2 linked regions of the Homo sapiens genome follow. The protein of the gene in region 2 interacts with the protein of the main gene of each other region in a biochemical or structural test. Each region holds a gene or a part of one and is shown on either strand. Other genes may lie near its edges.

What was found.
Region 1: the proteins of CNKSR1 (region 2) and RHPN1 form a complex in vitro, tested with the Homo sapiens proteins (one study listed by BioGRID).

The regions. Positions count from the first base shown.
Region 1 is NC_000008.11:143,366,809-143,370,553, reverse strand, and holds the start of RHPN1 (rhophilin-1), read right to left. Parts: upstream 1,679-3,745; 5' UTR 1,567-1,678; coding exon 1,507-1,566; intron 1,475-1,506; exon of another isoform or gene 761-1,474; intron 730-760; exon of another isoform or gene 1-729. UniProt on the Homo sapiens protein: Has no enzymatic activity. May serve as a target for Rho, and interact with some cytoskeletal component upon Rho binding or relay a Rho signal to other molecules.
Region 2 is NC_000001.11:26,187,491-26,190,529, forward strand, and holds the end of CNKSR1 (connector enhancer of kinase suppressor of ras 1), read left to right. Parts: intron 1-743; coding exon 744-817; intron 818-951; coding exon 952-1,013; intron 1,014-1,107; coding exon 1,108-1,207; intron 1,208-1,281; coding exon 1,282-1,463; intron 1,464-1,788; coding exon 1,789-2,058; 3' UTR 2,059-2,394; downstream 2,395-3,039. UniProt on the Homo sapiens protein: May function as an adapter protein or regulator of Ras signaling pathways.

The DNA.
Region 1 (3,745 bases), on a different chromosome or scaffold from region 2:
GGCCTCAGGCCCAGGTGTGGCCTCTAAGTGGATGAACGACCGACCCCTGACCCACTGAACTCTGAGCTTTAGGGCCAGTTTGGGGGCCAGCCTGATGGGGGTGGAACAGGCCTCACTCTAGCCCGGCAGCAGGCATCGGGGAAGACTTTCCAGATGGCAGGACAGCCTGAGTGGTGCGCGTGTGACACAGGGCCTGCCTCCGCCCCACTGCCACCTCCCACGGGCCCCTCCCCAGTACCCTGACTGTGGGGTCATTTCTGGACGCTGTGAGAGACACGGCAGCCTGGAAACAGCTTCTCCCCAACTTTCCAAGGTGGCAGCCCAGGGAGGGCCAGGACAGGGAGCCCAGGCACAGCCCCCAGCCTGAAAAGCGTCACCTCCGGAGCCCTCTGGGACATCTTGTTTGTACAGCCTCCCAAACATTCCACCCAAAACAACATGTGCCGTCCCAGGCCACCTGCAGGCATGGCCGCCCTGACAGAGCAAGTTCATAGGGGGCAGGCACAGGCTGCCTCTTTCCCTCCAGTGCCCAGGAGGTGCTGCAGCCTCTGGCACGCCTCGGGGTGGGCAAGAAGGGCGTCCTTGAGGGCTACGGTCAGCATCACCAGCCCAGTGACCTGAAGCCAAACCCTGGCTGATAGCACCGCCTCCTCCTCTAGGAGACCTAACCCCAAACACCAAAGCCGAGTAGAACCAGCCCAGGGACAACACAGTCTGACGTCCCAGAGGGGAGGAGGGCCGCGCGCTATCAAAGGCTCACCCGGGGCGAGGAGCAGGAGCAGCCCGCGGCTGAAAGCCCGTGGCGGGCGTGGGCGCCCAGGGCCTGGCAGGAGGACTGGGGCAGCCTCGAGCTGGTCCGCAGGGAACAAGCAGGCTCTGGGCTGCAGAGCAAGGCCCACAGACGTCCCCTCCTTCCCAGGCACAGACTCAGCAGGTCTCCACAGCCCTGCCCACCCCTCCCACTTGCCCAGTCAGCACCCCGGGTTAGGGACTTCAGAAGGGAAGGAGGTTTGGGAAGTGAGAAGAGGCCAGCCGGGAAGACCTCTCTCGGTTTCCCATACCCAGGAGGCTTCGCTGCCCGCTGCTACCAGTGCACCCAATGGGCATGCAGTTCCTGAGCGGATGCAGAGGGAGGACCGAACTAGGGAAGGAGGCTGTACAGGTGCCGGAAAGGAACACGATGGCGGGTGTGGGGAGGGCGCTCACAGAGCCCAGCCCCACATCCGCCCAGAAGGGGGACACGAGGAGGGCGTCCCCCCAACCCGCTTCAGCGGTGAGGATGATCCAGACTTTGGCTGTCCGCATTTCCCGGCTCACATGAGTGGCCTGGAAGCACCTCCACCGAGCTCAGAGGAGGAGGGACGCAGGCTCTGGCCTCAGTTTCCCTGCCTGCGTCCGGGCCGAATGAGACGTAGGAGGGGGGCGCCCGGAACGCGCCTCGAGGGGGGGCAGGAAAAGGCCGGGATTCCGGGCCCCTCCTCCCGCCGCCGCGCCAGTTCTGCGCACCTGCAGCCGCGGGCTCTCCTCGCCGGCGCCCGCGCCGTCCGGCCTCTCCTCCAGGATCATCGCCGCACCCGCTGCGCTGGGGGTCCCTCGGGGTCAGCCAGCCCGCCGCTCGCGCAGCGCTCCGCAGCCGGGCTAGGGCCGCCCGCACCACCTGGGCCGCGGGCTCCTGAGTGCCCGCGCCGGTCCCCGACTGTCCCTCCTGAGTGGGGGCGGCCCGCGGCGCGGCTGGGCGGGGCACGGGTCTGGCGTGCGAAGCTGGCCATTGCCCAATAGGCGGCAATGCCGCTTCGACGGACAGCTATATCAGCCAACCAGAGTTCCAGGAAGGCGGGCTCTGGACGGCCAGCTCCGCCCGCCCGCGGGACGGTAACCCCTGGCAACCGCGGCCGGAACGCCCGCGGCTGGCTGGCAGGTTGTACTGCGCATGCGCCGCGGCGGCCGCTGAGCGTGCGGGAGAAGTTCGGGAAACGGAGAAAAAAACTATACGGAACGTCCCAAGCTGAGAGTCAGGGCGGACCTGGACTCGGCGCGCCTAGCTCCTCGGCTCCCTTTGCGGGGACTCCAGGAGTCTGCCCGCTCGCGCCGTTTCGTCCTGTCACCCCGGCAACGGGACCCTCTAAGAGGCTTGTTCCAAAAATGTTCACAATGGGGTTTTTAAAAACGGTTTTGTTAGGGACAAGTGCTTGTGTGAGTCCTCCGACAATGCCTGCTTTCTTCTCTCTGCCCGCGGAGCGGAGGCTCCAGGCCTGGCCCCAGTCCGAGGCGCCTCTGTCGGTGTCGTCCTGCTTCCAAAACCGGCCTCCAGAACCCGCCTCCTTCCAGAACCTCCGTCCAGAACCCGCCTCCCTCCAGAACCTCCGTACAGAACCCACATCCTTCTAGCACCTGCCTCTGGAACCCACGTGCTTTCAGAACTACCTGTTTGTAGAACTTGTTTCCAGAACGAACCTGCTTTCCGAATCTCTTTACTTCCAGAGCTTGTTTCCTGGACTGACCTATTTTCAGAACCTACTTTCAAAACCAGCTTGCCTCCAGGACCACCTGCTTGGAGAACTGGCCTGCAGCCCCAGGACTGGACGACCTGAGACTGCACAGCTCCCTGCGGGGCTCACCCGGCTGTGTGTGTCCTTCCGGGCCTTCCATACTTCCCTAGGTGTCTGGTGACTCCGGAGCCCGCTCGGATTTCGTGTGGGTCTCGCCTCAGCTCAGAACACACCCTTTGAAGAGCAGGAAGGCCAGGGCACAGGCGGTAACCACGGCTCCTGGTCATCAAGTTCCTCTGAAGCCCAGGTCTTGTCCACGTTCACTGCCCCACCACAGGCCCAGCGGAGCCTTGGAGCTGAGCCCTGGGATCATTCTGGTGCCTGTGCTCCCGGCTCCGCAACAAGCACACAGGAGCCTGTCATCCCCAGATCTAAATCCTGAAGGCTAAGCTCCGTGGTCTGCCGCAGCCATCTGCAGCAGGCCCCTCCCAGCAACAGCCTTCTCATAAGGCCCCTGCCAGCCACGCGAAACCTCCTGGCTAGGGCCTGTCTTCCACTCCTGGCCTTTTGAGACAGGGCCTCACTCTGTTCCCCAGGCCGGAGTGCAGTGGTACGATCACAGCTCACTGCAGCCTCCACCTCCTGGGCTCATGTGATCCTCCCACCTCAGCCTCCTGAATAGCTGGGACTACAGGCTTGCACCACCACACCCGGCTAATTTTTGTATATTTTGTAGAGACAGGGTTTCGCCACATTGCCCAGGCCCAGGCTGGTCTCAAACTTCTGGGCTCAAGCAATTCATCTGCCTCAACCTCCCAAAAGTGCTGGATTACAGGGATGAGCCACCATACCCGGCTTTTTTTTTTCTTTCTCCTGGCCTTTTGGGGCCCTTGAAGTGTCTGCTCCCTGGGAGCCCTTCAGCTTGTCGTCCACTTGGTGGGTTCCCACCCGTCCTTCTCACTTCTGCCTGAATCACACAGGCTACATGAGACCTTCACCCACCCCCTTCGCCAGCAGCTCTGTGGTTCAAGTTTCCTCAAGGTTAGGGGCTCCTGGCCATCTTACCTGTGGGCCTGAGCATGGGCCGATGCTTCCAAAGTTCACACTGGGTGCACTTGTGTGGGGACTTCCATGTGAGTCATCTCCTTGCAGGCTGCCAAGGTCCTGTACAGCAGAGACCCAAACCCTCTTAGCAGTCTTCAGAGTCAGCTATGTGTACAGGAGGCATTACCATATCAGTGACTGTCAGCAAGCAT
Region 2 (3,039 bases):
CGCCTCCCTTAGCCCCTACTCTCATATGATTCCCAAACTCTGTGAGCTTGGGAGCCTAGGCTCAGGAGCCTGGAGATACAAATTCCAGCTCTCTGAGAGTGGTTGGTCAAGATACTCACTTCTCTTTCTCTTTTTTTTTTTTTTTTTTTTGAGACAGAGTCTCACTATGTCACCCAGGCTGGAGTGCAGTGGCGTGATCTTGGCTCACTGCAATCTCCGCCTCCTGGGCTCAAGTGATTCTCCTGCCTCAGCTTCCTAGGTAGCTGAGACTACAGGTGCCTACCACCATACCCGGCTAATTTTTGTATTTTTAGTAGAGAGGGGGTTTCACTATGTTGGCCAGGCTGGTCTTGAACTCCTGACCTTGTGATCCGCCTGCCTCGGCCTCCCAAAGAGCTGGGATTACAGGTGTGAGCCACTGCACCCGGCATCTCTCTTTTTTTTTAATTAAAAAGTTTTGTGGGGAGATGGGTTTGCCCTAGCTGGTCTCAAACACTTGGCCTCAAGCAATCCTCCTGCCTCAGCTTCCCAAAGTGCTGGGGTGACAGACGCGAGCCACCGCACGCAGCCAGTACTCACTTCTCTAAGCCTCAGTTTCATCATCTATAAAATGGGTGACTAAGAGTTCATCCCTCTCAGAGTTGCTCTGAGGATCATTAGAAGATGATGTGGGTAAAAAGCCCCCAGCATACAAGAGGGCCCCAGTGGATGGAAACCCTGTGAGACCTGCTTGCTCTCCATAGGTGGGTGCGTCATCTCATTACCTGCATCTCCAAGTACCAGTCTCCAGGCCGGGCCCCCCCACCCCGAGAGGAAGGTAGGTGTCTCGCAGGGTTGAGTGGGAGGAACCCTCACCTGAGCCTGTGCCTTTCCTGGGATGGGGGCTAGGAACTCAAATGCCCTAGGCCACTCCCTGGCCTCCCAAAAACCCACTGCTGCTCCTCACCCCAGACTGCTACAGTGAGACCGAAGCAGAGGACCCGGACGATGAGGCTGGGTCCCACTCAGCCTCGGTGAGTGGGGGGCTGCCGGGGGTAGGAGGTGGGGATAAACAACAGGGCGTGGAGCTCAGACAGAAACCCTCTGTGCTTTCCACCCTGCCTGCAGCCCAGCCCTGCTCAAGCTGGGAGTCCCCTCCATGGAGACACATCACCTGCAGCCACCCCCACACAGCGCAGCCCACGGACCTCCTTTGGCTCTCTGACAGGTGCTGGGCTGGAGTTGGGAGCTGGGCTGGGGGCTGGGGTGGGCACATCCTCATCCTGCTCTTCCCTCCCACAGACAGCAGTGAAGAGGCACTGGAAGGAATGGTACGGGGGCTGAGGCAGGGTGGCGTGTCCCTCCTAGGCCAGCCACAGCCCCTGACCCAGGAACAGTGGCGGAGCTCTTTCATGCGGCGCAACCGAGACCCTCAGCTCAATGAGCGAGTGCACCGTGTGCGGGCGCTACAGAGCACACTCAAGGTCAGCTGGGGGGCTCTGGGCACAGCAAGGGACTAGGCTCTGGGCTTCAGGCTTTGGTTTGCGGCTGTCACCTCCACCCTGGGCACCAGACTCCAGACTCCAGACTCAGCTCCGGACCCTGGGCTTAGCAGCTGACAGCGGGCTCAGCTGTGGACTGGGCCAGGCTCTGGGTTCCGAGTGGGGATTTGAGTCTCACCTAGGCTCCTCGTGCCACGCTGGCCAGGTGCTGGCTTCCAGGCACCGGACCTCCGGAGTGAAGTCTGGCCTCGGGCTCTGCCCACTTCCCTGGGTGATCATGGTCCCTTAGCCCCTCCTCTCCACACAGGCAAAGCTGCAGGAGCTGCAGGTCCTAGAAGAAGTGCTGGGTGACCCTGAGCTGACAGGAGAGAAGTTCCGCCAGTGGAAGGAGCAGAACCGGGAGCTGTACTCAGAGGGCCTGGGGGCCTGGGGAGTGGCACAGGCTGAAGGCAGCTCCCACATCTTGACCTCTGACTCCACAGAACAGTCCCCCCACTCCCTGCCCTCTGACCCTGAAGAGCACTCCCATCTCTGCCCCCTGACCTCAGAGAGCAGCCTCCGACCTCCTGACCTCTGACCCTGGCCAGCACTCTAGCTCCTGACCTTTGACCCGAGGGCCACCTCAACCCCAGCTTCTGACGTGTCCAGGACAGAGCATCCCTGGATTCTGTTCAGGGTGGGAAGTAGTACTGCTAGTCATGGTCTCACCCCGAGCTGACCCCTCTGCCTGGGCTTTGTGCCACCCTCTCCCTTGCCAAAGAAGAAACTCTCCCCCCAAATCCTCCAACCTCTGGGGCCACAGCCCTGCCCCTCCAGTTCCTTGGCAGTTCTCCCCCAAACCAGGTCTGTACAGGTGTTCTTTATTTTACATGAGGGCTACTTTCCAACCAAATAAAGTCAATTTTTCTAAGAATGAGTCTACATGTAACTTTACTTCCATATTCGAATTGGAAATCTGCCCCCCTGTGGGGACTGGGGTGAGTGCTCTTGGCCAGAGGGTGGGTGGCAGACCCTTCGTGCAGCCCGTTGGCCTGGGCTCTGTACCCGAGCTCCAAGCCTGCCAGGATGGTGGGGGATGACCCATGGCTAATGAGGGCTCCGACTCATGTCCACCTCTCCCCAGCTCTTTGAAGGCTAATGGTGATCTCCTACCCCATTCCCGGGGGGCACACAATGAGAAACTTCCACTTTGTAGATGGGGAAATGCACTTTGCACGGAAAGGTGGTGGGGACAGTCCTGGAGACTGGGCTGGTAGGACAGGGCAGCTGGTGGGGAAGGGTGCAGGTTGAGGTCTGCCCTGGGAAGGCCCTGGGGAAAACACTTCTCTCCTTCACTCCTCATTCCAGCCTCACCTCCACCTCCTGGATCCAAGGCAGGGACATGTCCCTGTGACTCCATTCAGGCTGCACGGGAAATCTGACCTGCTCCCATCAGCCTCTGACTTCCAACCCCAGCCCAGCATCCCCACAGCATCCCCAGACTTCCTCTGTGGGATGCGGAGGAGGGCCAATGGGAGGAGCTTCTCTCCAGGTTGGAATTCCTCAGTAGAATGCAGAC